Linked DNA regions of Homo sapiens. The protein of the gene in region 1 interacts with the protein of each later gene in a pairwise test. Each region holds a gene or a part of one and is shown in the gene's direction. Other genes may lie near its edges. The genes, in order: TMEM52B, CLDN19, TMEM14C and SLC35B4.

Evidence for each region.
Region 2: the proteins of TMEM52B (region 1) and CLDN19 interact in binary tests that used the Homo sapiens proteins (3 or more experiments, as listed by UniProt).
Region 3: the proteins of TMEM52B (region 1) and TMEM14C interact in binary tests that used the Homo sapiens proteins (3 or more experiments, as listed by UniProt).
Region 4: the proteins of TMEM52B (region 1) and SLC35B4 interact in binary tests that used the Homo sapiens proteins (3 or more experiments, as listed by UniProt).

The regions. Positions count from the first base shown.
Region 1 is NC_000012.12:10,187,974-10,193,238, forward strand, and holds the end of TMEM52B (transmembrane protein 52B isoform 2 precursor), read left to right. Parts: intron 1-1,922; coding exon 1,923-2,167; 3' UTR 2,168-3,831; downstream 3,832-5,265.
Region 2 is NC_000001.11:42,735,887-42,745,710, reverse strand, and holds the start of CLDN19 (claudin-19), read left to right. Parts: upstream 1-5,474; 5' UTR 5,475-5,647; coding exon 5,648-5,870; intron 5,871-7,125; coding exon 7,126-7,290; intron 7,291-7,397; coding exon 7,398-7,482; intron 7,483-9,680; coding exon 9,681-9,824. UniProt on the Homo sapiens protein: Forms paracellular channels: coassembles with CLDN16 into tight junction strands with cation-selective channels through the strands, conveying epithelial permeability in a process known as paracellular tight junction permeability.
Region 3 is NC_000006.12:10,725,723-10,733,272, forward strand, and holds the end of TMEM14C (transmembrane protein 14C), read left to right. Parts: intron 1-184; coding exon 185-286; intron 287-2,917; coding exon 2,918-3,005; intron 3,006-4,892; coding exon 4,893-4,944; 3' UTR 4,945-5,405; downstream 5,406-7,550. UniProt on the Homo sapiens protein: Required for normal heme biosynthesis.
Region 4 is NC_000007.14:134,305,976-134,314,967, reverse strand, and holds part of SLC35B4 (nucleotide sugar transporter SLC35B4), read left to right. Parts: intron 1-5,488; coding exon 5,489-5,602; intron 5,603-8,193; coding exon 8,194-8,296; intron 8,297-8,992. UniProt on the Homo sapiens protein: Antiporter that transports nucleotide sugars across the endoplasmic reticulum (ER) membrane in exchange for another nucleotide sugar.

The DNA.
Region 1 (5,265 bases):
CTGCAATCCCAGCTACTTGGGAAGCTGAGGCGTGACACTCGCTTGAACCCGGGAGGCAAAGGTTGAAGTGAGCCGAGATCGTGCCACTGCACTCCAGCCTGGGTGAGCGACAGAGAAAGACCCTGTCTCAAAACAACAACAACAACAAAATAGAATGATATGATGTGTTGCTGTTCACCTTTCCTACCTCCCCTTTCTCACTGTCATCTTAGGAAAAAAGGATAACCAAGGCTGGGCACGGTGGCTCAGTCCAAGGCGGGCAGATCATCTGAGCTCAGGAGTTTGAGACCACCCTGGGCAACATGGTGAAACCCCGTCCCTATTAACGTACAAAATTTAGCTGGGCGTGGTGGCACGGGCTTGTAGTCCCAGCTACTCGGGAGGCTGAGGCACGAGAATCATTTGAGCCCAGGAGGCGGAGGTTTCAGTGAGCCGAGATGGCGCCACTTCACTCCAGCTTGGGCTACAGAGTGAGACACCATCAAAAAATAAAAAAGGAAAGAAAGAAAGAGAGAGAGGGAAGGAAGGAAGGAAGGAAGGAAGGAAGGAAGGAAGGAAGGAAGGAAAAGAAGAAAAAGAAAAAGAAAAAGAAAAAGAAAAAGAAAAAAGATAACTGGGCATGGTGGCTCATGCTTGTAATCCCAGAACTTTGGGAGGCCGAGGCAGGTGGATTATTTGAGGTCAGGAGATTGAGACCAGACTGGCCAACATGGTGAAACCCCACCTCTACTAAAAATACAAAAATTAGCCAGGCACTTTTGTTGGCCAGGCACGGTGGCTCACACCTGTAATCCCAGCACTTTGGGAGGCCGAAGCGGGTGGATCACAAGGTCAGGAGATCGAGACCATCCTGGCTAACGCAGTGAAACCCCATCTCTACTGAAAATACAAAAATTAGCTCGGCGTGGTGGCGGGCGCCTGTAGTCCCAGCTACTCAGGAGGCTGAGGCAGGAGAATGGCGAGAACCCGGGAGGCGGAGCTTGCAGTGAGCCGAGATCGCGCCACTGCACTCCAGCCTGGGCGACAGAGCGAGACTCCGTCTCAAAAAAAAAAAAAAAAAAAAAAAAAAAAAAAAAAATTAGCCAGGCACGTTGGCACATGCCTGTAATCCCAGCTACTCGGGAGGACGAGGCAGGAGAGAATTGTTTGAACCTGGGAGGTGGAGGTTGCAGCGACCCGAGATTGTGCCACTGCACTCCAACCTGGGTGACAGAGTGAGACACTGTCTAAAAAAAAAAAAAAAAAGAAAAGAGATGAGGTAAAAATAAATAATCCTAAGGAGTCTATAGTATCGGGGGCTGGGGGAAAGGGATCTAAGTCTGAAAGGGGAAAGGGCAGGGTTGAGTTGCAGGATGCAGAAACATTCTTGGCTGGGTGTGGTGGTTCACTCCTGTAATCCCAGCACTTTGGGAGGCCAAGGCGGGTGGATCACCTGAGGTCAGGAGTTCAAGACCAGCCTGGCCAACATAGTGAAACCCTGTCTCTACTAAAAATACAAAAATTACCTGGGCATGGTGGCGGGCGCCTGTAATCCCAGCTACTTGGGAGGCTGAGGCAGGAGAATCACTTGAATCCAGGAGGCGGAGGTTGCAATGAGCCAAGATCCACCATTGCACTCCAGCCTGGGCAACAAGAGCAAAACTCCGTCTCAAAAAAAAAAAAAAAAAAAGAGAGAGAGAGAGATACAGAAACATTCTTTAGATTATTTGAGGTTACCAGAGAAAACAGGTCCTTCTAGCAGAGCAGGAAGCTGGGTTGTAAACATGCTTCAAAGGATATTCATAAAATTTGGGGCAAGGAGTGACAATGAGTTTGGATACTTGTAAAAAATGAAGCGACAGTTAAGTGTGAAGTAAGTCTCTGCTGTCTGAGGGTGTCCTGTTTCCCTTAGTTTCTTAGCTCTGTTCCTTCTTTCTTCACAGCTCTGCAGTCGGTGTTTGGCCCTGCAGCTCGGAGGATCCTGGCTGTGGCTCACTCCCACAGCTCCCTGGGCCAGCTGCCCTCCTCTTTGGACACCCTCCCAGGGTATGAAGAAGCTCTTCACATGAGTCGCTTCACAGTAGCCATGTGCGGGCAGAAAGCACCTGATCTACCCCCAGTACCTGAAGAAAAGCAGCTGCCTCCAACAGAGAAGGAGTCGACTCGAATAGTTGACTCTTGGAACTGATGAGAGCTGTCATTTTATAAATAGGAGTGGAGTGATGTCCAGAGTCTGTGGGAAAATGGAACACATACTTTTCTAACCCTCAGAAGTTTTAAGATGGCATCTAACACCATCATTCTATGGGAAAGATGGTTCTTACTCTTCGTTCACAGGCCTTTATATCTTCCGATACAGAATGCTCTAATTGGGAACTCTAATTTTGTATCCAATGGCCAAAATCTGCAAGTAATCTCTAGCCACACTGATTACTACTAAACCAGGAAAGCATCAAGGTGTCTTGAATTCCTTTAACTATTGAGTGCATATAGAATTCCTGTACCCACATGATACTGCAAGTTGTGTCTCTCTCTGTCAGCGAATCCACTGCGGTTAACTGGAAAAGAAAGACAACAGTGTCAGCACAGCCATCGACATTAATGCACTGAATGCATGCATCTTTCCTCCTGAGACAGCAATCGATTTTACACCGAATGACAATGATCATCTTAGACAGCACAACATACCCACTCGGATATCTAAAAGCTAGGGATGGCATTGCTGATATGGGCAAAGAGAACACAGTATAGTATTTAAGTGCCAAATATCAGTCTTTCTTTCTCTCTGGTCCTACCCCTCAGCAGTATGAAAAACTCCATACTGTGCAGTCACAGTTGGATTAATTCTTCAGTTCCTCCGCACTGCAAACACATATATGTGCGCACATGCATGTATACCTGCACCCTGTTTTAACTCTAAAGGAATAGTGTTGCTTTACTTCTTTCCTGTTTTGCCTGGACCACTTAAAGCCACAACACCTCTATAGTGACACACGCTAGTCTCTAGTGGTGGCCCTCACTGCCACCTAGAGGAGCCATGGTGGAAAACACACTCTCTCCTTTGAGCCTATCTGCACATCTCTCGAGTTCTTGGAGCAAAAACTAAATGCTGAACTAAGCCTGGTTGAGATGCTTCCCATGGACCATGCCGCAGCACAGTGCTAATCTATCCACAAAACATACCACCTCCCAAAGTATTATTATTGGAAAATCGAGGAAGTGACGCACATTTAGGGAAAAACTACTCACCTTAGAAAAGTCACTGAAATCCTTTTTTTTTTTTTTGAGATGGAGTTTTGCTCTTGTAGCCCAGGCTGGGATGCAATGGCATGGTCTCAGCTCACTGTAACCTCCACCTCCCGGATTCAAGCAATTCTTCTGCCTCAGCTTCCCGACTAGCTGGGATTACAGCTGCCTGCCACCGTGCCCAGCTAATTTTTGTATTTTTAGTGGAGAGGGGGTTTCACCATGTTGGCCAGTCTGGTCTAGAACTCCTGACGTCAGGTGATCCGCCCACCTTGGCCTCCCAAAGTGCTGGAATTAGAGGCCTGACCCCCTGCTCCTGGCCTGAAATCTTTAAAGCCGTTTTTTCCCTAAAAAATGGGAAATAATAACACCTCAGAAGGTTTTTGTGAAGATCAAAGAAGCTAAATATATGTGGCATGATTTGTAAAGTGTTATGCATATGTATGTTATTCTTCCTACTGTCTTCTAACCTTCCCTTGCCTGCTATGACTTATCTGAGAGCCATGTTCCCATTTATCTTTTTGCCAACTATGTTACTGTTGTCACACCTGAAATGGCTTTGTTTTTATCAATAAATACTTGTTGATTGCGGTAAACAGCAACAGATATAAGTGATTCCTCGTAATATGTTCTGGGTAGAGGTAAGGAATATTTGAGAAAACTAATTGTTTATTAGGCAATTAATTAACTCCAGAACTCAAGGAGGCAACACAGAGCCAAGAATTGGCTGATTATGCAGCTCCTTGTTAACTACATTCTTGGAATGCTCACTCAGCCCGGAGGGAAAAATGTTCTGAGTATAACCTGCTGGGGATCTGAAATTATCCTGAGTCATTTAACAAATTGGCTCTGGGAATTATTGAAATGCATGAATTGCTAATAGCGCCTGAAGGGACCTTGTTTTACTGCTGCCAAATGAGTCATTTAGTCATCAAAGACACATTCCAAAAGACATTCTAGGCTCTTCTATTAAGGCACCAGGACATCACAGACTTGGCAAAGGTAAAATGTTCATTGGCATTAGAATATCTTGGGGGAAATCTTGCCTATAATGTCTTATCCTAAAGGATAAGACATAATGTCTATTCCTAAAGGAATCTCTCTTCCCCACATCCACTCCCTAGCCCCTACCACCTTATTTGAAATATAGAATCACTTCCAACCATGACATGCTACTACCCTGTCCCCTGTGTCCATCCCATAGTGTGCCTTTTCCTCATCTGCTTCACATGTGCTGCTCCTCAGTCACATGGAGTCTCTCACTCCCGTAACTCCCCCATTTGGTCACTAGTTATTTGTACCCCTTTGGCCTCAATTCTTTCTATACTGAATCTAATACATCTGTTAATCACCTCCATCACCATCATTATTGTTCTCAATTTTTTAAAATCCTTTTTAACTTTCTTCACATCTACTCTTTAAACACTGGCTCGGCTGGGCACAGTGGCTCACGCCTGTAATCCCAGCACTTTGGGAGGCCGAGGTGGGTGGATCACTTGAAGTCAGGAATTCCAGACCATCCTGGCCAACATGGTGTAACCCCGTCTCTACTAAAAATACAAAAATTAGCCGGGCGTGGTGGTGCGGGCCTGTAGTCCCAGCTACTCGGGAGGCTGAGGCAGGAGAATCGCTTGAACCTGGGAGGTGGAGGTTGCAGTGAGCTGAGATCATGCCACTGCACTCTAGCCTGGGCAATAAGAGCAAAACTCTATCTCAAAAAAAATAATAAATAAATAAATAAATACATACATAAATAAATAATTTGAGTTGTGCTTGCATTACAATCATTTAACAGGTTTTATGTGTGTTCAGCAAGTATGATTTAAGAAATTACGTACCAACTGGGCACGGCGGCTCATGCCTGCAATCCCAGCACTTTGGGAGGCCGAAGAGGGCGGATCACAAGGTCAGGAGTTCGAGACCAGCCCGACCAACATGGTGAAACCCCGTCTCTACTAAAAATACAAAAATTAGCTGGGCGTGGTGGCACGTGCCTGTAATCCCAGCTACTCAGGAGACAGAGGCAGAAGAATCGCTTGA
Region 2 (9,824 bases), on another chromosome or scaffold:
TTGTATTTTGTAGGAGAAACAGATAACACATGTAAATTGTGTGTGTGTGTGTGTGTGTGTGTGTGTGTGTGTAAAACCCTTAGAGGTAGAAAATAAAACAAGTCAGGGTCCAAGGTGGAGGAAAAACAAGGAAGCCAATGTGGCGGTGTAGATTGGTCAAGAAAGAGTATGGTGACATTAGCCAGGAGACGTGTCACGTGCCTGTAGTCCCAGCTGGACGCTGAGGCAGGAAGATCGCTTGAGCCTGGAAGTTCGAGGCTGCAGTGAGCTATGATCGCCCGACTGCACTCCAGCCTTCACAAGAAAGCAAGATCCCAACTCTAAAAACAAATAAAAAGGAAAGTGGTGGATTGTCAGGGGTGTCTGGGGGCCTATTTTTAAAGTAGAGCCAACAGGCATTGCTGATGGATTGGATGTGAGGTGTGAGAAAAGGCATCAAGAAGAAGCTAGGCCAGGCTCAGTAGCTCCGCTTGTAATCCCAGCAGTTTGGGAGGCGAAGGCCAGTGGATCACTTGAGTTCAGAAGTTTAAGACCAGCCTGGTCAACATAGGGTGACCCTATCTCTAAAAAAAACTTGAAAAGCCAGGCATGGTGATGCACACCTGTGGTCCCAATACTAAGGAGGCTGAGGTAGGAGGATCATGAGCCCAGGACGTCAAGCCTGCTCCATTGCACTCCAGCCTGAGTGACAGAGCAAGACCATGTCTCAAAGAAAGAACAAGGCTGGTCTTTGTGGCTCACGCCTGTAATCCCAGCACTTTGGGAGACTGAGGTGGGTGGCTCACCCAAGGTCAGGAGGTCGAGACCAGCCTGGCCAACATGGTGAAACCCGTCTCTACTAAAAATACAAAAATTAGCTGGGTGTGGTGGCAGGCGCCTGTAATCCCAGCTACTCGGGAGACTGAGGCGAGATAATCATTTGAACCCAGGAGGCGGAGGTTGCAGTGAGCCAAGATCACGCCATTGCACTCCAGCCTGGGCAACAAGAGTGACACTCCATCTCAAATAAATAAATAAGAACAAAAACAAAAATTTCAATTAAAAAGTTTATTGGGCTGAGCACAGTGGCACACACTTGTAATCCCAACACTTTGGGAGGCCAAGTCAGGAGATCACTTAAGCCCAGGAGTTCAAGACCAGCCTTGGCAACATTGGAAGACCGTATTGCTATTAAAAAAGAAAAATTGTTTTTTAGGAAACGATTATTTTTTGAGCTGGGAGATAGCACTGCGTGTTAGTTGGCTGGTGGGAATGATCCAGTCAAGACAGTCACTCCTCCTTTTATCATGGTTGATCCCCGCCATCCTATTTGGGTGGCTCACTCGGCGTACAGAGAGGACCACGTTAGTGCAAAAAGCATGAACTTTACCCACACACTGAGCTGGGTGACACTCCCACTTCCACCATGTGGAGTTGTGTGACCTCCAGCAAGTTAGGGAACCTGTATGTGTTTCCTCACCAGCGGAATGGAATCACAGTCCTTCCCGCGATGGTTGAGCGGATGAACAAGGGAATGCTCACAAAGCAACCAGCACGACACTTAGCCCATGGTAGACATCAACATTACAGAAGACTACATCAGCCTAATTCTGGTTTTCCAGAAGTTTCCACATCAAGGCAGATGACTTTACAGTTTCAACTTATGCTAAACAGATACAGGCAGCAGCCTCTTAACTGAGCTCACAAAAGGCCAGATGTTTTCAAGGCAGCAGGCCCAAGATAAGTGTATATAGAGTGGGGCGAGTCCTCCTGGAAGCATGGGGTGATGGCAGCCCGGCTGAGATGCGACTGTGATTTCGGTCTGCGTTTGGTAACGCACATGCAAGGGCGCGCGAGCAATGAGAGGATGACTGCTTGAGAAGAAAGGAGAGAGCCCATGGGAGGGTTGGAGGGGATGAAAGGCAACTCCTCAAACACAGTGAAGATTTGGATGTGGAAGACGCCGCTGGTCTCTGGCGCCCCAGGCATCTAGCAGAGCTCTCAGCAGGGGCATCAAGAGACAGATGCTGTACTCAGTGTGGTTAGCACAGGTAAATGGGACAGCCACATGTGTCACAGAGGCGCAGGGCCCGGGCGAGAGGGTGGAACACAAAAATGTGTCTGCTAACACAGTCTCAAGGTGCTCAGGGACCTTAGGAAGGAGGTAAACGACGCAATAAGTGCAGTGAATGGAAATATGCCAAGAGTATGATGGGATTGCAGATCAGGATGCTTAGCCGTGCCTGGGCAGGCAGAATCGTTGGGGGTGGCCACACAGCTGGCTGTATTGCTTTCTAGCTGTGCGCCCTGAGGCAAGTAGTCTCCATTCCAAGCTTATAGTTCCGGGAATCTCAGACTCTGAGTTGGGAGGGTGATAAGAACTCCAAAATTTCAAATGATGATTGCAGAGAAGGTGCTAGATTGCTAAAGACTGAATCGGACCCTCCTAACTGACAATGAGAGAGGGCGGTGGAAAGGTCTCCGATTTTTCACAGGGAGGGAGGCAAAAGCATTGAATCCTCATACCAATCAGTCAATGATCAACACATACCTAGCAAGGCTGGCTCTCGGTCAGGCACTGTTGCAGAGGAAGTGGCAGTGGGTCTTCAGCCACAGGCAGTCTGCCCACTCCCAGAGTGCGAAGGCTGGAGGGGCAGACTGTGCGGGGAGTCTTTTTGGAACAGAGCTTTCATTAGTCACAGTTCTGCAGGCGTTTTATGCTTTCAAACAGCCTTTCTCACCTATCATCTGATCCTTGTAAACTCCCTCATGCATCAGACAGGGCAAGTGTTATTATCCCTACTTTTCAATGGAGAAACCAGGCCCAGGGAAGCTGAGGATTTGGCTAATGTCCCATAGCTTTTCAGTGGCAGGGGTAAAGCTAGAACTGTAGGCTTCTCATAGCCTGAGTGAAAGCACAGGGTGCTGTGCTACCCCAGGGCAGTTTCAGTGAGCTCTTAATGGAGGCTGGGCTGTGACCCTGAGCCTTCCTGTTCTCCCCGCATGTCTGGGAGTCATTGGACTGCAAGGGGGGGCACCAGGAGTGGTAGGTGTCCTGGGTGGAGAAGCTGTGCCAGGTTAAGGAATGCCGCTCCAGAAGCAGAATCTGAATTCCAAAAGGCTTTGGAACAAGAATGAGGGAAGGCCGTCAGGGTAGGAGAGAATATTTTGGTAGAACAGACTCAAAGCCTCAAATAACAAAGAGAAGGGATAAACAGAAGCACTTCAGAGGAAGAGGAGAGCACTGTTCCGGATCACGAAGAGGCTCTGGGAACACCCAGGATGGAGGAGCATGCAGGCCTCCTGCTGGCTCTGTGGCCCTGTGGACCCGTGGCTCCCTTTCTCTCTTTGGCCCTCAAATTGTCAATGGAGGGGGCCGCAGCCCATGGTCTCTGAGGCATGCTTCTGACTGGCCTCTGGGCTCCTGACCCAGGTCCCCCTGAAACCAGAATGACCCCTGGATCTTCCCTACAGAGAGAGCGCCTGCAGATGGCGGGGAAAAGGGGCCAAGGCCCAGCGTGGAGAGAAGGAGGACTTTGCCTTTGGAGGAGCATATGCGGAGCAGCTACCCAGCACCAGGCCCCTGCCCTCCCCAGACATCGCTTACTTTAACGGACCACCACAACTCCATGAAGCAAACCTCCCATTTAGAGTGAGGACCCTGAGGCACCACAGTCATTCAGGTCACCCCTGGGGAGCATCTTGTCACTGCCCGCAGCCCCCTTCAATCTGGACCTGGTGCCTCCCTCAAAAAGGGAGGAGTGTGGGAGAGAGACCACAGGGGCCAGCACCACACAGTTTCAAGCGGAAAGCCCTTCCTGCTGTTTCCTGGCTGGGGGTCTATTACCTCCCTCTGCCGTGGTCTCCTTACTGTTAGGAGGCCTGCTGCCTGCAACAGTGGCCCACATGCTTAAATTAATGCACTGGTCACAGGGTGCCCATTGCGGCCCCAGTAGGATGGAGGAGGCTCCCCTCAATCCTACTGTCTTGTCATTGTGGTAGAAGAATCTGAGCTCAGGACTTACTTCTCTGCCACTGTCCTAGACCCCATTTGGTCTTGGGACCCACAGGTCGTCCAGGAAGCAGGTCTGTGTGTGCTCGGATCCACGTGGCTCTGACCCTCCCAGCACAGAGAGCCTGAGGGTCCCAGTGTGCACCACCACAGGTCAAGCAGTGCCCACCCTTGACCCTCAGATGGCAGACCACTCCCCCATCTCTGGCCAGAGCTGCAGGCCATACCAGAGGCCTACGCCCTGGGCGGGCACACAGGGCTGCCATTGTCTGCTCAGCGCCTGGCACCCTCTCGTTTGCATAGCCACGTGAAGAATGCAAGAGCGGGCTGGGGACTTGTCCCTTCAGAGGGGGGTTGGGGCTGTGGGGGAGGAAGCCAGCAGGGGTCTGCAGCAGGACCCTGCCTTCCCCCAGTGCAGTCCAGGAAGGGTGGGTGGGCTGTTGGGGACGGAGGGGGCGGCGGGGGGCTGGCAGGAGTGGAAGCAGGGTTGTGACATTCCTTCTGCACCCACGCTGCAGTGGGGCCCACTTGAACGTGAGGGGATTGCTAATGAGGTGGAAGAGAGTTAAACATTCCCCTACTCCTGAAGACCAAGAGAGACTGGGAGAGAGAAGAGGGAGGTGGGGGTGCTCGGAGCGGGCAGCCTGAACCCCGGGAATGTGCAGAGGCCACTGCTCCGCGCCAGGCTGCTCTAGAGTTGGGGGCCAGGGCCCAGTGTTCCAGTCCCAGCAGGAGCTACTAAGCCAGCCAGCAAGGGGATTAAGGGGCTGAGCAATCCGCCTTCCTTCAGGCTGATGCCAGAAGGTTGGGGCTGTCTCCCCAGCTCCCCACCAGGCCCCTTGCTGGCCGGCAGCCAGCGCTGGCCCAGCCTCGATAGGGCCCCTTTTCTGTCCCCCTCAGATCTCAAAAAGACCCCACAGTACATATTTCCTGGTCTGGCCTCCCTGATTTTTGGCACACACAGCTCCCAGGTACCCATGACCCCTCTTCCCAACACCCCACCGCTAGCTCAGCCTCCCCACATCCAGCTTCAGAGCCCCTGCCAAAAAGTTATCCTTGACATCTAACTCTAGTTTTACCCGCTGCAAACTGGCATTCCTTTCCCTTCTGTCCTAAAGTCAAAGGGCAGAAAACCCCAAGGGTTAGATCAGCCTTGCAAGAGCAAAGTCCATCCTCCCAGGGCTGGTGTTTGGGTTAGGGATTATCCGAATTTTAGGACACCCGAATCAGGTTCCTAAAGGGGTTTCCCTGTGGGGAAAGGCCCAGAGGGCAGCTGGGTCATTCCTCTCAGCCCCTCCCTTCCCTATCCCTGCGGAACGGGGCGGGGCAGGGACACCACCTGGGCCATGGGCCGGCCCTCCGCCCCCAGGGGGCTGGGCATGAGCTTTGCTGGGGACCCTGCTCTGGCTTAGGCGGCTGCTGTGGGCGGGCCCTGGCCTTTTCCAGCCCCTGGGCCTCCCCCTGCATTCTGGAGTCCAGAGCCACTGCCTTTGCTCCAGCCGCTGCCGCCGCACCACCTCTCCTTCTCTGCCTCTGACCCTCCTTCTCGCTGCTCCCCCTGCCCAGCTGCTCCTCCCACCTGGCCATGACCAAAGCCCCTGCTGGCACCCTGGCCCAGCTCTGAGTCCTGGGACCCTCGGTCCTCTCTCCTGGGCCATGGCCAACTCAGGCCTCCAGCTCCTGGGCTACTTCTTGGCCCTGGGTGGCTGGGTGGGCATCATTGCTAGCACAGCCCTGCCACAGTGGAAGCAGTCTTCCTACGCAGGCGACGCCATCATCACTGCCGTGGGCCTCTATGAAGGGCTCTGGATGTCCTGCGCCTCCCAGAGCACTGGGCAAGTGCAGTGCAAGCTCTACGACTCGCTGCTCGCCCTGGACGGTAGGCCCCAGGCCGGCGGGGTGGGAGATGGGAGGTGGGAACAGCAGGGGAGTCTGGAGCAAGTTTTCCTCACAGTCTGCTATCTGCGCTGGGCTCCAACCTCCAGCCTCCGCTCTACAATTCCCCCACTACTGCCCTGTGCCCATTGACGGTCCAGGCCAGCCTGCTGCCCTGTGGGAGGGGAGGGCTCTAGGGTCTGGCGGCTGTGGGTCCAGATTCCTGCTCTGTCACTATAACTTTGAACTAGTCACCAAACCTCTTCCCATTGTGATGTTCTCATCTCTAAAGGGGAATACTAATACCTGTGGCACTCTGAAAGACTCAGTTAAGACCCTTCATCCACTTCTCCCCACAGTCAGTAGACAGACACACACTGTATGATGCACACCTGCTCCCTAGTCCTGCTCCCAGGCCTGTGTGCCAGCATATGGGTGCATGCACATGCATGCAAACACGCATGCACACGCACACACGTGCACATGCATGCACAGACAGGTGTGTCTGCATGCAGTCCCTCTCCTTCTGGGGTGTGGAGATGAGCCTGACAGGCACCGCCGAAGTTCTAACTCTGGGGTGGAGGTGATCCACCTGCAATCTGCCCAGGAGCCCCCAGGGACAATCTGCTCCCCATGGGAGCTGGGAGCAGAGCGGCCTTCAACCAGCCCCATTGTGCCAGTTCAGGCAGGTCAGTTCAGGCAGGTCATCTAGCCTCGCTGAGGGACCCAGGTCTCCTGAGCACCCCCCAGGGCCCAGGATGGACCCATGCACCCGTGAAGAGGCAAGCTTCCAGCTGCCATGGGCAGAGGGGAAAGTGACTGTTGTCTGAATGGCTGCTGGGGAGGGGTTGCTGCGGGGCTCAGGCTGAGTTGAGCTGGGCCTCAGATACCCCCAGCTCTTCCACCTACCAAACCTGAGGGGACCCTGGAGCTGCCCTCAGCTGCTTGGGAGGATGGGCCAAGCCCAAGAGGGAGTCCCCAGGCCAGAAAGCAACAGCAGAGTGAATCATACTACCGGAAAAGCCTGCAAGGGCGAGTGGAGAATGGCGTTGACAGTGAAGGGGACTCTCACCCCCACACCCTGTCCTCATGCCCGGGCTGTCACTCCTCACTATCCTGCACCTGCCAGAAGGTGGTCTGACCCCCCAGGCCAGCTCCTGCTCAAGCCCCTCTCAAGCTGGGCTCCTTCCACCGACCCCAGGCACCGACCCAACCCCCATCCCCGCCAGCCCGACTCAGTGTCATCCCGCCCACCCTAGGTCACATCCAATCAGCGCGGGCCCTGATGGTGGTGGCCGTGCTCCTGGGCTTCGTGGCCATGGTCCTCAGCGTAGTTGGCATGAAGTGTACGCGGGTGGGAGACAGCAACCCCATTGCCAAGGGCCGTGTTGCCATCGCCGGGGGAGCCCTCTTCATCCTGGCAGGTGAGTGCCCCTCACTCCTGCACAATCACAACCATGGCAGGCAGCCCCAGCCCCAGTGGCCTCGGGGGGCCAGAGCAGAGCTGAGCGCCCCTCTGCTTTGTCTTTAGGCCTCTGCACTTTGACTGCTGTCTCGTGGTATGCCACCCTGGTGACCCAGGAGTTCTTCAACCCAAGCACACCTGTCAATGCCAGGTGGGTGCCAGGGCTTGGGTCTTTTGCTTTACCTCCTCTGGGGCCACTGACCTTTGTCCACTGGATCACCTGGCGGGGGAAGTGGGGACAGGATCCAGCTGCTGTCCAAGAAGCTTTAAAGGGGGGCGCCAGGAGGAGTGTGGTGGGGCCCTCCATAGGGGCGGGAGGCCTGTGATGGGCACCCAGGTGCAGCAAGGACTCTCTAAGGACCTAAGTGCCCTGGCTCTGGGTTTCAATCCCAGCTCTGGCTGGGTGCAGTGGCTCACGCCTGTAATCCCAGCACTTTGGGAAGCCAAGATGGGTGGATCACCTGAGGTCAGGAGTTCAAGACCAGCCTGGCCAACATGGTGAAACCCCGTCTCTATTAAAAATACAAAAAATATCTGGGCATGGTGGCGGGCGCCTGTAATCTCAGCTACTCGGGAGGCAGAGGCAGGAGAATAGCTTGAACCCGGGAGGCAAAAGTTGCAATGAGCCGAGATTGCGCCACTGCACTCCAGTCTGGGTGACAGAGTGAGATTTTGTCTCAAAAAAATCAAACGATCAATCAATCCCAGCTTTGCATGCACTGTGTCACCTGGGCAAGTTACTTAATCTTTCTGTGCCTAGTTTCCTCCTCTGTGAAATGGAGCTAGAACCTGAGCACCAGTTCACACATGGTTGTCAGGATCCAGCAGGATGCAGGTGAGGGTGTGGCACCGTGCCCGGGCCCTGGACAGTACCCAGCAAGCCTGAGCTGTTTTCATTTCTGCTGGTGGCAGCAGGGCTGAGATGACTTCCTGCAGGAGGCAGCAGTTATTCTGGGCCAGGAAGAAACTTGAGAATAAGGGCAGATCGTGGAGGGCCTTGCAACCACAGGAAGATTTTGTTCCTCATTTGGGTGGAGGCAGCGGCAGTCCTTCTGGCTGTGATGTGCAGAATGGTGGGGAGGGAGTGACACCAGGAAGGCGGCTGTCCCAAAGGTCTGAGCAGAGAGTTTGGGGCAACAGGGAGGGAGCAGTGGAAAGCAGGCTGATATTCAGGAGATAACCAGGACTTGTAAGACTGTGGGCATGGGAACTGAAGGGGATGCTCTGCAAAGGGCCTGGGCCCACCTTGGCTCCTCCCTCACTTCTCAGCCTAGCCAGGAGCAGAGAATGGGACAGTCTTAACCCTAGACATCCCAATGGGCTTTGGGCCTTGGGGTGGAGAGAGGATGAGAAAAGATGTCTGGGCTTTTGCAATCGGGAGGGATGCCTGGAGGAGGCAGAGGTGTTGAGAGGCAAGGGGAGGGAGGAGATCTCAGGTACAAGGTTTGTTCCCTGGGTGGTGGCTGCAGCCACAAAGTCTGCCAAGCAAGGTCCAGCTCAGGCATGTCAGGATAGGACTCGGCCCCCGATCCCTTCAACAGTCCCCAATGCCACTTGGGCTGCCAGGCCCTGTGCTGGGTCCTGGGGACACTGATGGCTCTGTCTGCCCTCAAGGGGCTTCCCAGGGAGCCGGACAAGCAAGGGGCTGAGGCCTCCTGGAGAAAGCATGGTAGTGGAGTCGGCGCAAGGGGCGGGGTGAACACAGAGGATGTCAAGGAAAGACCCCACGAAGAGGTGGCATCTGAACTGGGCTCTGAAGGCAGAGAAGGAACAGGGGAGGCACAGGAGTGGTGGGCTGGGGGGCTTGGTGCCCCAGCTGGGGGTGCCTTGTGCAAAGGCACCAAGGCAGTGAGAACCAGGAGCAGGGCTGGCCTGGCCAGCAGGGTCTGGGTGTGGAGAGCCCAGAGTGCCAGGTGGAAGGGTCTGGCCTTCTCCAGAGGGCAGCGGGAGCAGTCTTGGCTGGGAGTTCTGTGGGCCAGAATGTGACTGGGAAAAAACATGGCAGGGATTGCCCCACTCCTCCCGTGCAGACCTCTCAGGCCCTCCCATGCCCCCTCCACTGGCCAGATCAGGAAATGAGCCCAAGGTTGCTCAGAGCAGGAGCTGGAGGCCCAGCCTCTAGCCTTCACGCCTACCCCAGGCCGGGTCACCCTGTGTGGTGTTGATATTCTGGGCTGGGGGGGAGGGAGAAAGGAAGAGCATTCACCTCAATTTATCTGGAGATATGGAAGAGGTTGTGAGGCTCCAGCCTCCAGCTCCACACACTCTGCCCTTCCTCTGCCAGGGCAGGGACTGGGAACAACCTGAGACGGCAGCCACACCTGATGCCACTCTCCCTACCCCTTGCAGGTATGAATTTGGCCCAGCCCTGTTCGTGGGCTGGGCCTCAGCTGGCCTGGCCGTGCTGGGCGGCTCCTTCCTCTGCTGCACATGCCCGGAGCCAGAGAGACCCAACAGCAGCCCACAGCCCTATCGGCCTGGACCCTCTGCTGC
Region 3 (7,550 bases), on another chromosome or scaffold:
ACCCTGACTTCTCTGAGAAGATAGCACACTCTCTGTAACGTCTTCCTGCTTGAGTCCACCTTGGCTATGAGCTGTGTTGAGAGTTCTCTGTGCTGTCCTCCTTTGTAGGGCAGCGGTCTGGGGGATTCCGTTAGTGAAATAAGTGCCTGACATTACAATGCAAGCTGTGTTTGCTTCCCTCTAGGCAGCGTGCCGTCCCTGGCTGCAGGGCTGCTCTTTGGCAGTCTAGCCGGCCTGGGTGCTTACCAGCTGTCTCAGGATCCAAGGAACGTTTGGGTTTTCCTAGGTATGTCTGCTTTGGCGTCTCCTTAGGGCAGCTATGTATCCAGAATACTCTTTTCCAAAAGACCCTGGTTTGGTGGGATGGGGTGAGTTCTTCACACTTCACTTACGACAATTTCACTGCTTCTACCAAGTCCTCAGAAAGTTTTAAAATGAGGGTGCAGAGGCAGGAATTATGCTGGTTTCTGTTTATCTTTTACATACAGAACATGGAAGGATTTTCATAGCTCGTGACTATATTTACCCAGTAGCATTAAAATTCTATCAGGCAAATGTATCAACCGTTGAGGTTGCCCACTGAAGACCTTTGGCTTCAGCATCACTAAACTATCACACGTCTGGGTTAGGTTTGCATCTGAATTGCGATTTCCCCATTTGAAAATCACCTCTTTAGCAGTTAGCTAAATGTGACTGCAGTGACTCACACCTGTAATCCCAGCACTTTGGGAGGCCGAGGCAAGTGGATTACAAGGTGAGAAGTTCGAGACCAGCCTGACCAACATGGTGAAACCCCATCTCTACTAAAAATACAAAAATTAGCTGGGGGTGGTGGCGGGTGCCTGTAGTCCCAGCTACTTGGGAGGCTGAGGCAGGAGAATCACTTGAACCTGGGAGGCAGAGATTGCAGTTGAGCTGAGATCACACCACTGCACTCCAGCCTGGGCGACAGAGCAAGACTCCATGTCAAAAAACAAAAAACATAGGCATAGAAGCAGGACTGGAAAGGTACCCTGTAAGCAGCACGGACAGTGAGTGGTGTGGGGGACCGAAGAGTCCTCCTTATCAGAGTGGCTTTCAGTACATTTCTGTGGGGCTCCACCCATGTGTCAGACACTGCTAGGAGTGTGGGTTCCTTGCGGTCTCTACAAACCCCGTGTGAGAATGAGTGCCATGTGGGAGGGAGAAGCCATGTGATCTGTACATATCAGCTGGGGTGGGGAAGGGAGGTCCGTGATGGCTAATGGGGTGTGCTGGGGAAGGAGGTGTGTCCAGGTCCCAGCTCTGCCTAACAGCTCCCTCCCTCATGCTCCAGAATGACTTGAGCCTGCATTTTCCCTTTCTCTGATGCTACTCTACTCAGCAAATGACCTCACGCCTATTGTAGGGAAAAAACAGCAGCCATCAGGTGGGGACTCCTGGAGCCTTTAATCTCCAAGCCTCCCCTCGTCCTGTTTCCCTCCTCTCCAACACCAGTGTCTTCCTCTGGGCTTTGGGTGTCTTCTCCCTGATCTTCTCCAGACCTTTACACTGGCCAGGATCCTGTCTTGTATTTGTATTCCTCCTTTTAGGTGGATCCCCGCATTGATATTCAGATGTGCTTGTCTCCTTCCCCTTCATAAACTTCCCTTTTTTTGAGATGGAGTCTCACATATTGCCCAGGCCAGAGTGTAGTGGCACAACCTTGGCTCACTGCAACCTCCACCTCCCAGATTCAAGCAATTCTCCTATCTCAGCCTTCTAGGTAGCTGGGATTCAGGCGTCCACCAACATGCCCGGCTAATTTTTCTATTTTTAGTAGAGACAGGAGTTTCGCCATGTTGTCCAGGCTGGTCTGTAACTCCTGACTTCAGGTTTGGGAGGCCAAGGAGGGTGGATTGCCTGAGCTCAGGAGTTTGAGACCACCGTAGGCAACGTGGTGAAACCCGGTCTCTAATTTAAAAAAAAAATTAGCCAGGCGTGGTGGCGGACGCCTGTAGTCCGAGTTACTCAGGAGGCTGAGACTTGAGAATTGCTTGATCCCAGGAGGTGGAGGTTGCAGTGAGCCAAGATCACGCCACTGCACTCTAGCCTGGGCGACAGATCAAGACTCTGTCTCAAAAATTAAAAAAAAAAATGTGACTCTGTTCATGTGTCCTTCTGCTTAGCATCCTTTAATAGCTTCTCATTGTTCTTACGATGAAAACCCAAACCCCAGTATGGCCTTCAAGGCTCCATGTGGTCTGGCACCTCTTACTCACAAACTGCATCTTGACTTCTGTGCCATGCTGCCCTTTTAGGGTGAATGTCCCATGCTCCCTGTCACCACAGGGCCTCTGCATATACTGTCCCCTCTGCCTGGAATGGGCCTTCCCATCCTTCAGCTCATTAATTCCTGCGTAATTTCAGATCTCAGCCAATCTTCACTTTTTTGTCTAAGCCTTTTTATTCGTGTGAGTCTTTAAAGTCTGTCCCATCAGACCTGAAGCACTGTAAAAGGGCAAAGACAGTTACAATAACCTTTGTATTCTCCAGCTCCTAGCACAGCACTTGACATGTAGTAGGTGCTTCGACAGATACCCAGTGGGAATTGTGTGCAGGGTAGAGGAAGTAGCGTCTGCAGGGCGTGAGAAACAGTAGCATTTTGGAGAAAACTAACATATTGATGGCTAAAGTGTGGGTTTTGCAGAAGACAAGTGGTAAGAGATGAAGCTGGAAGGGCAGGCAGGACCCAGGCTGTGAAGGGCCCTATTTGGCCAATATTGGTACTAGGACCCATAGGATGTGGGCAGTCAGTAGTCTCCCCGACTTGGGGAAAGAGGAATAAGCATAGGATGAGGCGTGAGCCTTGAGAGATGGGTGGGGCTTGGCCCACTTCTGATTCCCCTGCGTAGAAGATGTAATGAGTTTTAACACTTCTTTATATGTTTTTCATCAGCTACATCTGGTACCTTGGCTGGCATTATGGGAATGAGGTTCTACCACTCTGGAAAATTCATGCCTGCAGGTTTAATTGCAGGTGCCAGGTACTTTCATTCTATTACTCTTCTTTACCATGTAGAGTTCAGTTTATTCCCCAGGATACCTTATGCATTCAAAACCTTACTTGTTTCAGGATATCTGATGCTATGTATCAACTGACATTTGATATATACACTAATAGGAAATGTTTCAAAAACAATAGCTAGTTTAATGTCAAAATGGCATGAGTATATCCATTCACCGTGGAAATGGGTTTGTTCTCATATTTGCTTTCCAGTCCATCCAAACTCCTCCCTATATGGTGGCAGAAGTTTTAGTGCAAAGCCATGACTGCAGCCTTTTGTGTGACTTGCATGGAAGATTTGGGGGCCCCATATTTCTTAGATGTGTAGATGTCTTTTACAGAAAATTTTGCTAAAAGAGAATTTTGATTGAATCCTGTTTTCTATTTTTTGTTGTTGTTATTGAGACGGAGTATCACTCTGTCACCCAGGATGGAGTGCAATGGCGTGATCTCCGCTCACTGCAATCACCATCTGCCTCCCGGGTTCAAGCGATTCTCATGCCTCAGCCTCCGGAGTAGCTGGGATTACAGGCGTGCACCACCATGCCCAGCTATTTTTGTTGTTTTGGTAGAGATGGTGTTTCACCACATTGGCCAGGCTGGTCTGGAACTCCTGATCTTGTGATCCGCCCACTTCGGCCTCCCAAAGTGCTGGGATTACAGGCGTGACCCACTGCGGCTGGCCCTGTTTTCTAATTTTGATTATAAAACCTAAACCAAATTGTGGTTTTTAAAAAATTTAGTTGTGGCTGGGCACAGTGGTTCACACCTGTAATCCCAGCAATTTGGGAGGCAGAGGCAGGCGGATCACCTGATGTCAGGGGTTCAAGACCATCCTGGCCAACATTGCGAAACCCCGTCTCTATGAAAAATACAAAAATTAGCTGGTTATGGTAGTGGGCACTTGTAATCCCAGCTACTCGGAAGGCTGGGGCAGGGAGAATTGCTTCAACCTGGGAAGCGGAGATTACAGTGAGCTGAGATCATGCCACTGCACTCCAGCCTGGGGGACAGAGCAAGACTCCATCTCAAAAAACAAACAAACAAACAAACAAAACTTTAGTTGTAGGCCAGGTGTGGTGGCTCATGCCTACAATCCCAGCACTTTGGGAGGCCAGAGCGGGCGGATCACTTGAGGTCAGGAGTTCAAGACCAGTCTGCCCAACATGGTGAAACCCCATCTCTATGAAAAATACAAAAATTAGCCGGGCATGGTGGTGCACACCTGTAATCACAGCTACTTGGGACACTGAGTCAGGAAAATCTCTTGAACCTGGGAGACGGAGGTTGCAGTGAGCCGAAATTGTGCTGCTGAACTCCAGCCTGGGCAACAGAGGTGAGTGAGACTCCATCTGAAAAAATAAAAATAAAAAACCTTCTCAAAAACAAAAAATTTAGTTAAGTATCATAAAGACATCCTGAAGGTAGGGGAATTTTTAAAAATCTGTTTTGGAGAAAGATTACATACTCTGATCATAGTTGTGATGCTACCAGTATAATGTTTTATACCTGAAGCAAGGAAGTCAGTGTGGAGCAAGGTCTAGAGCAGTAAACTGAGACGCTGGAGAGTCTACCATTAATCAGATCTGTGATGGTGGGGAGGCCTTGCTCTCTCTTGCCTCCATTTCTTCATCTCTTCAAATTATTGGCAGTTGGGTTAGGATCCAGCTCATGTGTGCTATTTTAAGACTCCCTTGGCTTGCTTTTTCTCTGGTTCCTCCAGGGATGGAAATTTACCCCTGACCACTCTTGCCTTAGTACCTCCTCCCCCACGCAGTTGTGAGGAACCAGCAGTTTAGTTCCTTAAAAACATAGTTGCCTGTTCTGTCCTTTACCTGACATTTTCTATCTTGTTTCTTTTAAACAGTTTGCTGATGGTCGCCAAAGTTGGAGTTAGTATGTTCAACAGACCCCATTAGCAGAAGTCATGTTCCAGCTTAGACTGATGAAGAATTAAAAATCTGCATCTTCCACTATTTTCAATATATTAAGAGAAATAAGTGCAGCATTTTTGCATCTGACATTTTACCTAAAAAAAAAGACACCAAACTTGGCAGAGAGGTGGAAAATCAGTCATGATTACAAACCTACAGAGGTGGCGAGTATGTAACACAAGAGCTTAATAAGACCCTCATAGAGCTTGATTCTTGTATATTGATGTTGTCTTTTCTTTCTGTATCTGTAGGTAAATCTCAAGGGTAAAATGTTAGGTGTCAGCTTTCAGGGCTCTGAAACCCCATTCCCTGCTCTGAGGAACAGTGTGAAAAAAAGTCTTTTAGGAGATTTACAATATCTGTTCTTTTGCTCATCTTAGACCACAGACTGACTTTGAAATTATGTTAAGTGAAATATCAATGAAAATAAAGTTTACTATAAATAATATTTCCTATGGGGTCTTCATTGCCAGAGCTGTCTAGTTCATAGAATGAGATATTGCTAGCAGCAAGATATAGAAACATGAAAGTATTTTGTTAATATTTAGAAATTACCTATTTTGAATAACTTAAGGACCAAGGAAACTTATTTGATTGTACATTGCATTGAAGCTTGTTTCAAAAATGACCTCTGAGGATTTTTTTTGTTTTTCAAGAGACAAGGTCTTTCTCTGTTGCCTAGGCTGGAGGGCAGTGGTGCAATCATATGTCACTGTAGCCTCAAACTCTTGGGTTCAGTCATCCCACCTCAGCCTCCTGAATAGCTGGTACTACTGGTGCATACCACCACACCCAGCTAATGTACTTTTTTTTTTTTTGGAGATGCAGTCTTGCTCTGTTGCCCAGGCTGGTCTCAAACTCCTGGTCTCAAGTGATCCTCTCGCTTTGGCCTCCCAAAATGTACTGGAGTAATAAGCATGACCTACTGTACCTGGCCACTGAGGTTTTCTTCTTTTTTTTTTTTTTTTGAAACGGAGTTTCGCTCTTGTTGCCCAGGCAACCTCTGCCTCCCGGGTTCAAGCCATTCTCCTGCCTCAGCCTCCCAAGTACCTGGAATTACAGGCATGCGCCACCATGCCCGGCTAATTTTGTATTTTTAGTAGAGACGAGGTTTTCCATGTTGGTCAACCTGATCTCAAACTCCCGACCTCAGGTGATCCGACTGCCTCAGCCTCCCAAAGTGCTGGGATTACAGGTGTGAGCCACCATGCCCGGCAGCCACTGAGGATTTCTAAAGTTAGGACTGTGGGCTGGGCACGGTGGCTCACGCCTGTAATCCCCACACTTTGGGAAGCCGAGGCAGGCGGGTCACAAGGTCAGGAGTTCGACACCAGCATGGCCAATGTGCTAAAACCCCATCTCTACTAAAAATACAAAAATTAGCCAGGTGTGGTGGCGGGCGCCTGTAGTCCCAGCTACCAGAGAGGCTGAGGCAGGAGAATCACTTCAACCCGGGAGGCAGAGGTTGCAGTGAGCCAAGACCGCGCCACTGCACTCCAGCCTGGGCGATGAGACTCTATCTCAAAAAAAAAAAAAAAAAAAAAATTAGGATTGTGTAGCAAAATTAAAAGGTGATTTTTTTGTTGTAATTAGTTCATACATAAATGTGAAACTAGAAAACCCATCTAGAGCTTGAATCACCTAGTTTGGTGTCTTTGTTGGACACATTAACTGGATACTGGTACCGTTTCAACACGAAGAATTAACTCAATCTGGTAGCCCTTGCTTTAGTTTTCATTCCGTCTTTAAAAAGGAAAACATACCATGTTCTCTACCCTGTTACTGCTTCAGAGTTTAATTCAGGCACTTTATGTATTTGCATAAGCCCCTTGAAAGTGGTCCTAGTTTTCCATCCTTTTTTATAGGACACTGAACAACTAAGGGCACTTGTGTTGGAGTGATAGAGGCATCAGAAGGCCATAGACCATCCAAACCTACCATCCTCCCAGGCTTCCATAGCTAAGAGTTTGAATCATGTTGGCCCTTTCATGTGTCATGCAGTGTTGCCAAAGGGCACACATTTTTGCCACCTTCAGTCCTAGAGGAGGACCTGGCTCCTGAATGACAAGGTTCCCTGAAGGTGGGATTAGTTTAGGTGCCAAGTAGACTGTAACTATTTGGTCCCCAGCAATCAACCTGGAAAATTCTAAGGCTGCCCACAGATGAGAGGCAAGAGGTCTTCATAGCTCTTGCCAAGTCCCCTTGTCCCTGCTTCTCTGCAAAAATCCCTGAATATTTACTATCGTTAAGGGTTGTACTGGGTCCTGGTGGGTCCGGAATTGGTTCCTTCCAGTACACTCTTGGTGTTGCCAACTTCAAGAATGAAGCCTTAGACCCTCGAAGTAAGTGTTACAGTTCCTAAAAGATTGTGAGTCCGGAGTGTCTTTCTTCTGGTGGGTTCGTGGTCTCGCTGATTTCAGGAGTGAAGCTGCAGACCTTCGCTGTGAGTGTTAACAGCTTTTAAATGTGGCGCGACCAGAGTTCATTACTCCCTTGCGGTTTTGTAGTCTCCCTGACTTAAGGCGTGAAGCCGCAAACCTTCAGTGTTACAGCTCTTAAAGGTGGCGTGCCCAGAGTTGTTCTTTCCTCCC
Region 4 (8,992 bases), on another chromosome or scaffold:
AGATCTGTTATTTGACTTGGGAATAGGTGATGAGGGATAAAAAATGAAAAAAAAATTGTATCCAACTGTAAATCTGATACACTTTTAAAGGAAGGCCACTTTGGCAACAATTGATTTGAAAATATAAAAAAGTTGGCCAGGCATGGTGGCTCACACCTGTAATCCCAGCACTTTGGGAGTCCGAGGTGGGTGGATCACGAGGTCAGGGGTTCAAGACCAGCCTGGCCAATATGGTAAGACCCCGTCTCTACTAAAGATACAAAAATTAGCTGGGCCTGGTGGTGGACACCTGTAATCCCAGCTACTCAGGAGGCTGAGGCAGGATAATCGTTAGAACCCGGGAGGTGGAGGTTGCAGTGAGCCGAGATAGCACCATTGCACTCCAGCCTGGGCAACAGTGCAAGACTACGTCTCAAAAAATAAAAAAAGAAAATATAAAAAAGTGATACCATCGGGCCAGCCATGGAAATGAAAGTCAGGGAATAATGGTAATATTTGTGTTGAATATGCCATTAAATTAAATCTTGCCAAAGGCTGTATGACATGAGAATATGCAAGCAACTGAATCCCCTCTTTACTAGTTTGTGAGCCCTTGACTGAATTACTTGATCTCCCTGAGTCTGACCCAACTGTAAAAGGGGGTGATGGTGATGATGGTTCTACCAGCTTCACAGAGTTTTGAAGGATGAAGTGAGATGCGCATGTGAAGCCTAAAGCACACTTGTAGGGCTTCCCATTCTGTCCAACAATTTGGTTTCAATACAGATATATTTCTTTAATATATAAAAGAAAGATATATTTCTTTTTTATATATTTATGGTCCTACAAAGTCGTGGACAAATCTAATTTTATAAAATATTTTCATGCATTATAGGAGCTCCTATTTAAAATATTTTGAATAATTTGTAAATAAATCATCACTTATCTTTTTTTTGTAAATCTGCATTTTTTGCATAAAACAATGGGTTTTCATAAAGTGGTGAGGAGGTGCATTTATTAAAATAATCAGTGGTGCACCAGACTGAATAGAGCCTTTTCCTAAGACAAGTCTCCACTTCTTGTGTTACAGATCAATAAAATAAGAGCTAGTTGAACCAGATGGCCTTAAGGTTCTTTCTAGATATGGCCTTGGAATTTGTGACTTTATCTTGGGACATCACAGTGGAAGCCCCATAAATTTTTATAGCCTAGGAACTGTGCTTTTTATATTGGCTGGCTTGGAGCCAGTAGGTGCCCTAATAAGTAGCAAGTATAACACTAAATATAAATGCTAAGTGACTTGCAGGAAGAAGAGGACATTTTTAACCATTTTCCCCAAATTGGAAAACAAACTCAGGCTTTTCTTTCTGATTTTTATCCCTATGATTGGGACCAATAATAAAACACAATGCAGTGGACAGAGCAGATAGGTAGTAATGGACGAGTGCCTTGATATTCCTCCTTAGGGAGCTTACATTCTACCTTGGAAACAAGATATACACACACCAGCTAACTAACTAGGCAAGATATTATTGCTTGCCTTACACCAGAAAAACAATCTGAAACATTTTTTTTCCTATTTTATTTTTCATTCAAGTGCCTGATCTTGAATTAAATAGTTTCCTAAATTCAGCAAAAGAAATGCAAACGGCATAAACGATCTGCCCAATTCATTCTCTTCAAAGTTGCATTCTTTTTTAAATAAAAATTGGAATTTTTGCCAAGAGAATTCAAAGTAAGAGAAACTGTTTGCAGTTAGTGATTACAATTCCTGAGGAAGAGAGCTCAAGAAAACAAGATTAAGGGATCCAAGTTTTTACTCTGAAGTTTTAAAATGAATTATTCAAGTTAAAATAAATAATTCCATTGGTAGCTATACAACAGTGTGTTTCGAAAAGGCTTCATAAGTTGAGCTTTCAAAAATTAAATTATTTGAGTACATTAGGGAGATTTTTAAATTCTATAGAAATAGAAACAAAAAGTAGAATAGGGTTATTGCTGGACTGGGAAAAGGAAGAAATGGAAAGTGACTCAAAATGGGAATAGAGTATCTCTTGGGAGTGTCCTAACATTAGATAGTGGCAATTATTGCACAACTAAAAACCCATACTTAACCCCACTGAATTGTAATAATCATAATGCTAAGGGTAACCGCAAATGCCATTTATTTGCCGTTGACCGCTGGGAGACTTACCTGACGCAGTGCAATGGGACCCTCAGCGTCTTTAGAAATGGAATGAAATGGGCATATCAATACCCACCTCCATAAAATAAAAAGTATTAAGATGCCCTTTTTAAAAATCCTATAGCGAATACACATGTCATGTGAATCATTTTTTAAATCTCTTTTTATCTTTTGTAGAAATTATAAGATTCTAGATCACATTGGAACCCTCACATTCATTCTCTTGCTTGAGTAAAGGTGGGTCACTGACCCGAAAGTGAGAGCAGAAAGGTAAATGGGACATGGTCTGTCCCATCACCATCCCTGCTAAGGCACTGGCTTCTGACGTCCTCCTTCGCATCTGGCTCTCCCATATTGTCATCTTCTTGGGCAGGGATCCAGTCCCATTCAAGTTGGGGGCTCCCTGGAAGCAGCCACCTAACTCTACACATAATTGAGTCTTGATAATTGTTCTTTAGTTGACTTGGCCTAAACTTGTTAAAGAGAACATAGAAGGAAACTTTGAAGCCTCTTTTGGATTACCTCTTGTGCTTGGCACTTACATGTATTTTCTCATTGAATACTCACTACGACAGTGAAATCAGTTTCATTTTAGAGATGAGAAAACTTAGTCAACTGGAATGTCTTTTAAAGGCTGAAGACCTTTCAGCCTGCAAGATCCTAAATACTGGTCATCATATTTGCCTTTTTCACTCTGTGGCAGGCGCTGTGTTAAGTGCTTTTCAGGGATGGCTCATTTACTCTACAATAAATCAGAGATAGGCACTCATATGGTTTCCATTTTAAAGATAAAAACACTAGACTTAGATAAATTAATTCACTTCTGTCACATAGCAAGTGACAGAGCAACATATCGCATGTCGGTGTGTACTTTTAAGCACAGTGGAGCATAGTGGTTCTCAACCTTGTGTCAGCACCTGAGAACTACCTGTGCATTCACATATACAGCGACACATGCACTCACATACACTCTCAGCCCTTTCCCTGCACCTTGACTGGTATTTCTCCAACCTGGCTGCATGTGACAATCAAGTGGAAAGCTTTTAAAAGTACAGATTCCAGGGTCCTACCCCAGACTAATCAAATTAGAAGTGGGAGAGTGAGCCTCTTTGGGTAAATAGGTTTTTTTGTTGTTGTTGTTTGTTTTTGAGACAAGAGTCTTGCTTTGTCACCCAGGCTGGAGGGCAGTGGCATGATCTCGGCTCACTGCAACCTCCACCTCCCAGGTTCAAGTGATTCTCCTGCCTCAGCCTCCCGAGTAGCTGGGATTACAGGCATGCACCACCACATCTGGCTAATTTTTGTATTTTTAGTAGAGATGGGTTTCACCATGTTGGCCAAGCTGGTCTCGAACTCCTGACCTCAGGTGATCCACCTGCCTTAGCCTCCCAAAGTGCTGGGATTATAGGTGTGAGCCAGCCACCGTGCCGACCATTTGGGAAACAGGTTTTTAAAAAGCAGAGTAGGCTGGCCCGAGTTCCAAAGCACCGTGCTAGGAACCATCTAGAGTTAAAGTTCCTTCTGTCACTCATATTTAGGCTAATGGTTTTAATTAGGTCCTTGAATGAGGTAAATGTCTTACATGATTATTTATGGATTCCTGCATTTAGCCTTGTCCTTTGAACATAAGAAGTGCTAAAAGAGAACTTGTTGAATTGAATAGAAAGCAGTTTTCAAGGAAACCTTCATAGGCAGCAGAGCTTAAAGAGTAGCAACATTTCTGTTTCAGTTAGTAAGCCTAGTTCTGTAGAAGAATGGCTCATGCCTGTATTGTCTTATTTTTGTGCCTAATGGGTATATTTAAGGACTTGTATATCTTGGCATTGCTGTATAATACTAATACCAATGGAGAATGGAGTCATTTCTGGTAAGTAGCAGTATATTAATATGTAATAATACAATTACATACCTCTCACCAGCTTCAGGTAAATGCCTTTGGTCAAGATGAAAATACAGAGGCCGGGTGTGGTGGCTCACGCCTGTAATCCCAGCACTTTGGGAGGCCGAGGCAGGTGGATCGCAAGGTCAGGAGGTGGAGACCATCCTGGCTAACACAGTGAAACGCTGTCTCTACTGAAAAAAAACAAAAAAATTAGCCGGGCCTGGTGGCGGGCACCTGTAGTCCCAGCTCCTCGGGAGGCTGAGGCAGGAGAATGGCACGAACCCGGGAGGCGGAGCTTGCAGTGAGCCAAGATGGCACCACTGCACTCCAGCCTGGGCGACAGAGCGAGACTCTGTCTCAAAAAAAAAAAAAAAAGATGAAAACACAGAATACGAAGGCAGGTGAATATTGGTATTATAGGAAATCTGGAAGCTTCAGGAGAGCAAAGATAACTGCTCACTTTGTTCTTCTTCCAGCGATTGAGCAGAGCTGAATGGAAGACAAGCTCAAGAAAACCTGAACATTTTAAATGACTAGTTTTCAGAGTGCCTCAAGATGAATGTCAGGAGGAAGTTTTTAACTTTGTAAATTTGTTCCTAACAATCACTGTTGAATGTGGGGAATCTTCCCCAACTGTTTCACAGATCACTAAAGAGACTCTATTGAATTCCACAAACATTTTTTGAGTGCCTAATATATTCAAAACACTGGGTTAAGAGCTGTAGAGAATAGTAGACTACGGCAGTGTTTTTCAGTCTTTTGTTCATTATGCCTCCTCCAGAATACTTTTTAGACGTTGTTTTCTTAATCCCTCCCCTGCCATAGATATAGTGTGTACTGGTTCAGGTACTGTATGTATATTTGTACTTTATTGTTATAAAAAGAGTAAGATATCTCCCCCATCCCAAGAACCAATTTTGCCCCGTTGCTGGGCACCATTTAAAGTAATGTTCCTATCATCAACACTGGGTCCATTTTTCGTTTGACAGCAGTCTTGGTGATTCCTGGTCAGGAGGGATATATAAACATTCCAGGAGACCTGAGCATATTTCTGTCCCTGGGCTTTGCTACCTAAGCTGACTGGGATCCTGATTAAAGACCTTTCTGGTGAAGCAAAGATCCCAATAAGAACATATGACCAATTTCCTGCAGTTTACTAGGAAAGCTGTATCGTAGTTCTGGGAACAAGTGTGTCGTCACAGTAATTCTCACTCATGGCCTGATACACGCAAGGAAGAGTTAAATAAGAAAGCTTGACATTCTTCTCTGTGAGATCAATGCTAAGTATATGTGATCCAAAGGCTATGAACATTGAGATAAAGGACAGTGGGTAATTGAAATCCATCCACGCTGTTATTCTGGCCCTCTAATTAGAATGCATTTTAGTGTTCTGTATCTCAGTTTTTGTGCCTTCACCCCCTCTTTTATTATTCACTATACAGGAAGCATCCAGGATGTGGGAACATTGTGACATTTGCACAATTTTTATTTATTGCTGTGGAAGGCTTCCTCTTTGAAGCTGATTTGGGAAGGAAGCCACCAGCTATCCCAATAAGGTATGGTACATTAGAGTCTCTTTTAGCTTTTGGATTTTTTAAGAAAGTAAAGAGGTGGTACCTGTATAAAAGGAGGATGAGACATTCTTTTATAAGATTTATTTCAAAGATACCAGTAGAATAATAAGTCATTTTCTGAATTTAATATGTTGTGAAAATCCGGGGTACCTACTTCGAAAATAAAATTTCTGCCACAAGATTTAAAATAACCATGATGGAGACAAGAGTGTGTATGTGTGTGTGTTCTTATTTAGTATAGGATTAGTCAGAAGGCCTAGTGTGACCACAAATTTTGTGCTGTCTTCTGTGTTGGTGAAGTTATCAAACATTCTAAAAGGGGAGTATCCTTGTTTCTTTTTAAAAACGAATGGCTTTTGGAAATAAATAGAGGTAGTAGTTACATAACTTTGTGAATGTACTAAATGCCACGGAATTGTTCACTTTAAAATGGTTAATTTTATGTTATGTGAATTTCACCTCAATTAAAAGAAAATGAATGGCAAGCAAAGTCAAAATTTGTTGATGCCAGACCTGTAGTACATTAGTCCAAATGTGCATAATTGTACTCATGGGGCCAAATAGAAAACAGGGCAGTTCTTATGTTAAACAGTGTATTGAAAACTCAGCCTTCTTGCTGAGAGTGACTTGAGATAAAAGTGTAATCCATCCAGTTGTGAGTATTTAGTAGGATGATGTCACTTACTCCCGTTTAGAGCGACATTCTGGTGTGAATATATCCAAGTATGAAGGCAAAGGCCCATCTTTGTTGGTTTTCTTTTGCAGCATTCTTACGTAGCCTGCTATAGAAAATCTGGCTGAATTTTGTTAATATTATACTTTTAAAGTTCCCAGTGCGATGCTAAATATTCCAGATACTTTTAGTTTTTCATTTGCTTTAGTATCTGCATAAAACTTTCTGCCCCTAAAGACCAGCATTTATATTGCAGTAAAAGCCCCAGCATTTCTTGACTCCTCTGGCCCTTTCCTGCCTCTTCCCACTATCTCTCCCCATTCTCTCCACCACTAGCATAGATCAGGAAGTATACCCTGTCACCATATCTTTTATAATAGCATCCTAGCTGGCTGACTTCCCTGCCTCCCACCTCTTCATCCATCAATTTCACTTAATATCGTTTTATCATGTCGCCCCACTCTGTGGTTACCACGATGTTCTGAATGATGTCCAGACTCCCCATCCTGCCCTTTGAGGGTCTCTGTGATCTTGCCCTCATAACCATATTCTCATGCATGTCCTATGTGTGTTGGCCATTTTATTTTCTGTAGGTGGAGCCATAAACAAAATTTTGCTCATGTCGTTCATCCCCATCCACAATTTCTAGGCAAGCAATGTGGAATAGTTAAATTAATTACCCTAAAAGACCTTGACAAACTCTGTAAATGGCACCTCTTCAAGGTAGAACTAAGAAAATTTGGCAAGAAACTTTGTAAAGTCGCTGATAGTATATTATTTAGAAGCTGTGAAGAAGCTGTTGCTGGTAATTTTGCATATGTGTTCATTGTCAAGTTCCTCAGACTTTCCAGACTATATTAATTCAGCCTTGGCTTGACTGCCTGTTGTGGTGTATGGCTCCACACCTAACTAGCAACGCAGAATCGGTTCTTTCAGGGAAGATCACTTAGGACTCAGTGCTGTCATATCCTTCAGATGTGCAAAGGTGGAAAATGGTTGGGAATCTCCAAGATCAACATTTCCTGAAGAATATGGAACCACTTATTTGCTTTTGCCCTGCATTCTTTAGCCATTTATTTTAAATGCTGTTTTTTTCTCTTACTCAATATAGGAAGTTGAGTCATATGAAATTTCTGACATTCAACTCTTTTTGACCTATAAAAACGGCAATTTTATATGGTTTGGCCCAATATATGTAGAAGGCATCTTATGTATTTTCTGAATCACAGTGATGACATACAAATGTAAAATTATTTGTTTAATCCATCTGTTCATAATAATTCATTTGTATTTATCCCTTTAAGTTATTAGGGTTACTGGATTTTTTTTTTTTTTTAGTTTTTGTTTCTATTATTTTAAGACCTATAAACTTTCAAAAAACAGAGACCCTGATTTTAAATAAAAATCTGTACAAGTCAAACCATGTCCTCATTAATTTGGAGGCCACTAGTTCAGAATGCGGGAGAATTTTAGCAGCTGCTAGGCTGAAAATAATCCTTAACTTAGCAAATACTTTCTTTAGAAACAGCGAAAATTAACAGTACAAACAAGTGTATAGAGGAGGTATTTGAGAAAATCAGCCATTTTCAAGTTCTTCAGAGGTATATGAAAATTATTTACAAAGAATCAATACAATCATTTTAAGTTGCTATGTATACTTGAAAATTTTTAAATAGTGTTTCTTTAAATGTATTTTATAACTTAGATTTTCCCATGTTAGTCTGGCTTTGTGAAGCGTTTTGATATGTACTTAGTAGTTGACATGGCATAATAGTGATGCAATCTTGCAACGCAGAGGAAACAGGCAAAATGCCTTTTTAGCCAAAAATATATATTTCCTATACTTGATTTTCTTGAAATCCTAGATTCTGTTTGATGAGCTGTTCTGTCTGCATTTCAGGTACTATGCCATAATGGTGACCATGTTCTTCACCGTGAGCGTGGTGAACAACTATGCCCTGAATCTCAACATTGCCATGCCCCTGCATATGATATTTAGATCCGTAAGTGCTGCCGGATCACGTGTATATGTTCCTCTGAAAAGTATAGTTAAGTAGATCGATTGAATATATGGCAGAACTAGAAGGTTCTTGTAGTAAGTGGTCTTGGGTAGAAGAATAGGTTTGTGAATGCGTGAGCAAGGGTGGCTTTCATCTGAGAAGGCAAAAAGAGAAATCTCAAAGTGGATGGTTTACTTTTATTCTTCTGAGGTCTAATGAGTGATTAATAAAAAGAAAATTAAATTTTCCCTAGGAAACAGATTTTACCTTCATTTTCCCTCATCTCTTTGATTTTATATTCAAACATGCTATTAATGTTATTTAACTTATTTCTTATCTCTTCTTCTTTCATAAAAGTACATTTACTTCTAGAACATGAAAGAGATACTTGTCTTTTCTGATTTTTTTTTTTTTTTTTAAGCAGAGACTTGAGATAATAAAGGGAAATTCTTGATGAAGGTAGGGTTTCTCCCAAAGCACTCCAGGCAAAAAAGGCTGATAATTGTGGTGATAACATTTCCATGTGGTCTGAGATTTTTGTGAGATTGTACTGTTCCTGAAGGGAGTTTCCAAAGCAATTATAATAAGGTGACCTTCAAAGCATTGAAAACATAGTGGACTTTCAATAAACACCTGTTGATTGATTGTCACCTTTTTAGAGAACAGAGAGATCCTTGCATGACTTTTTCCATTAAAACT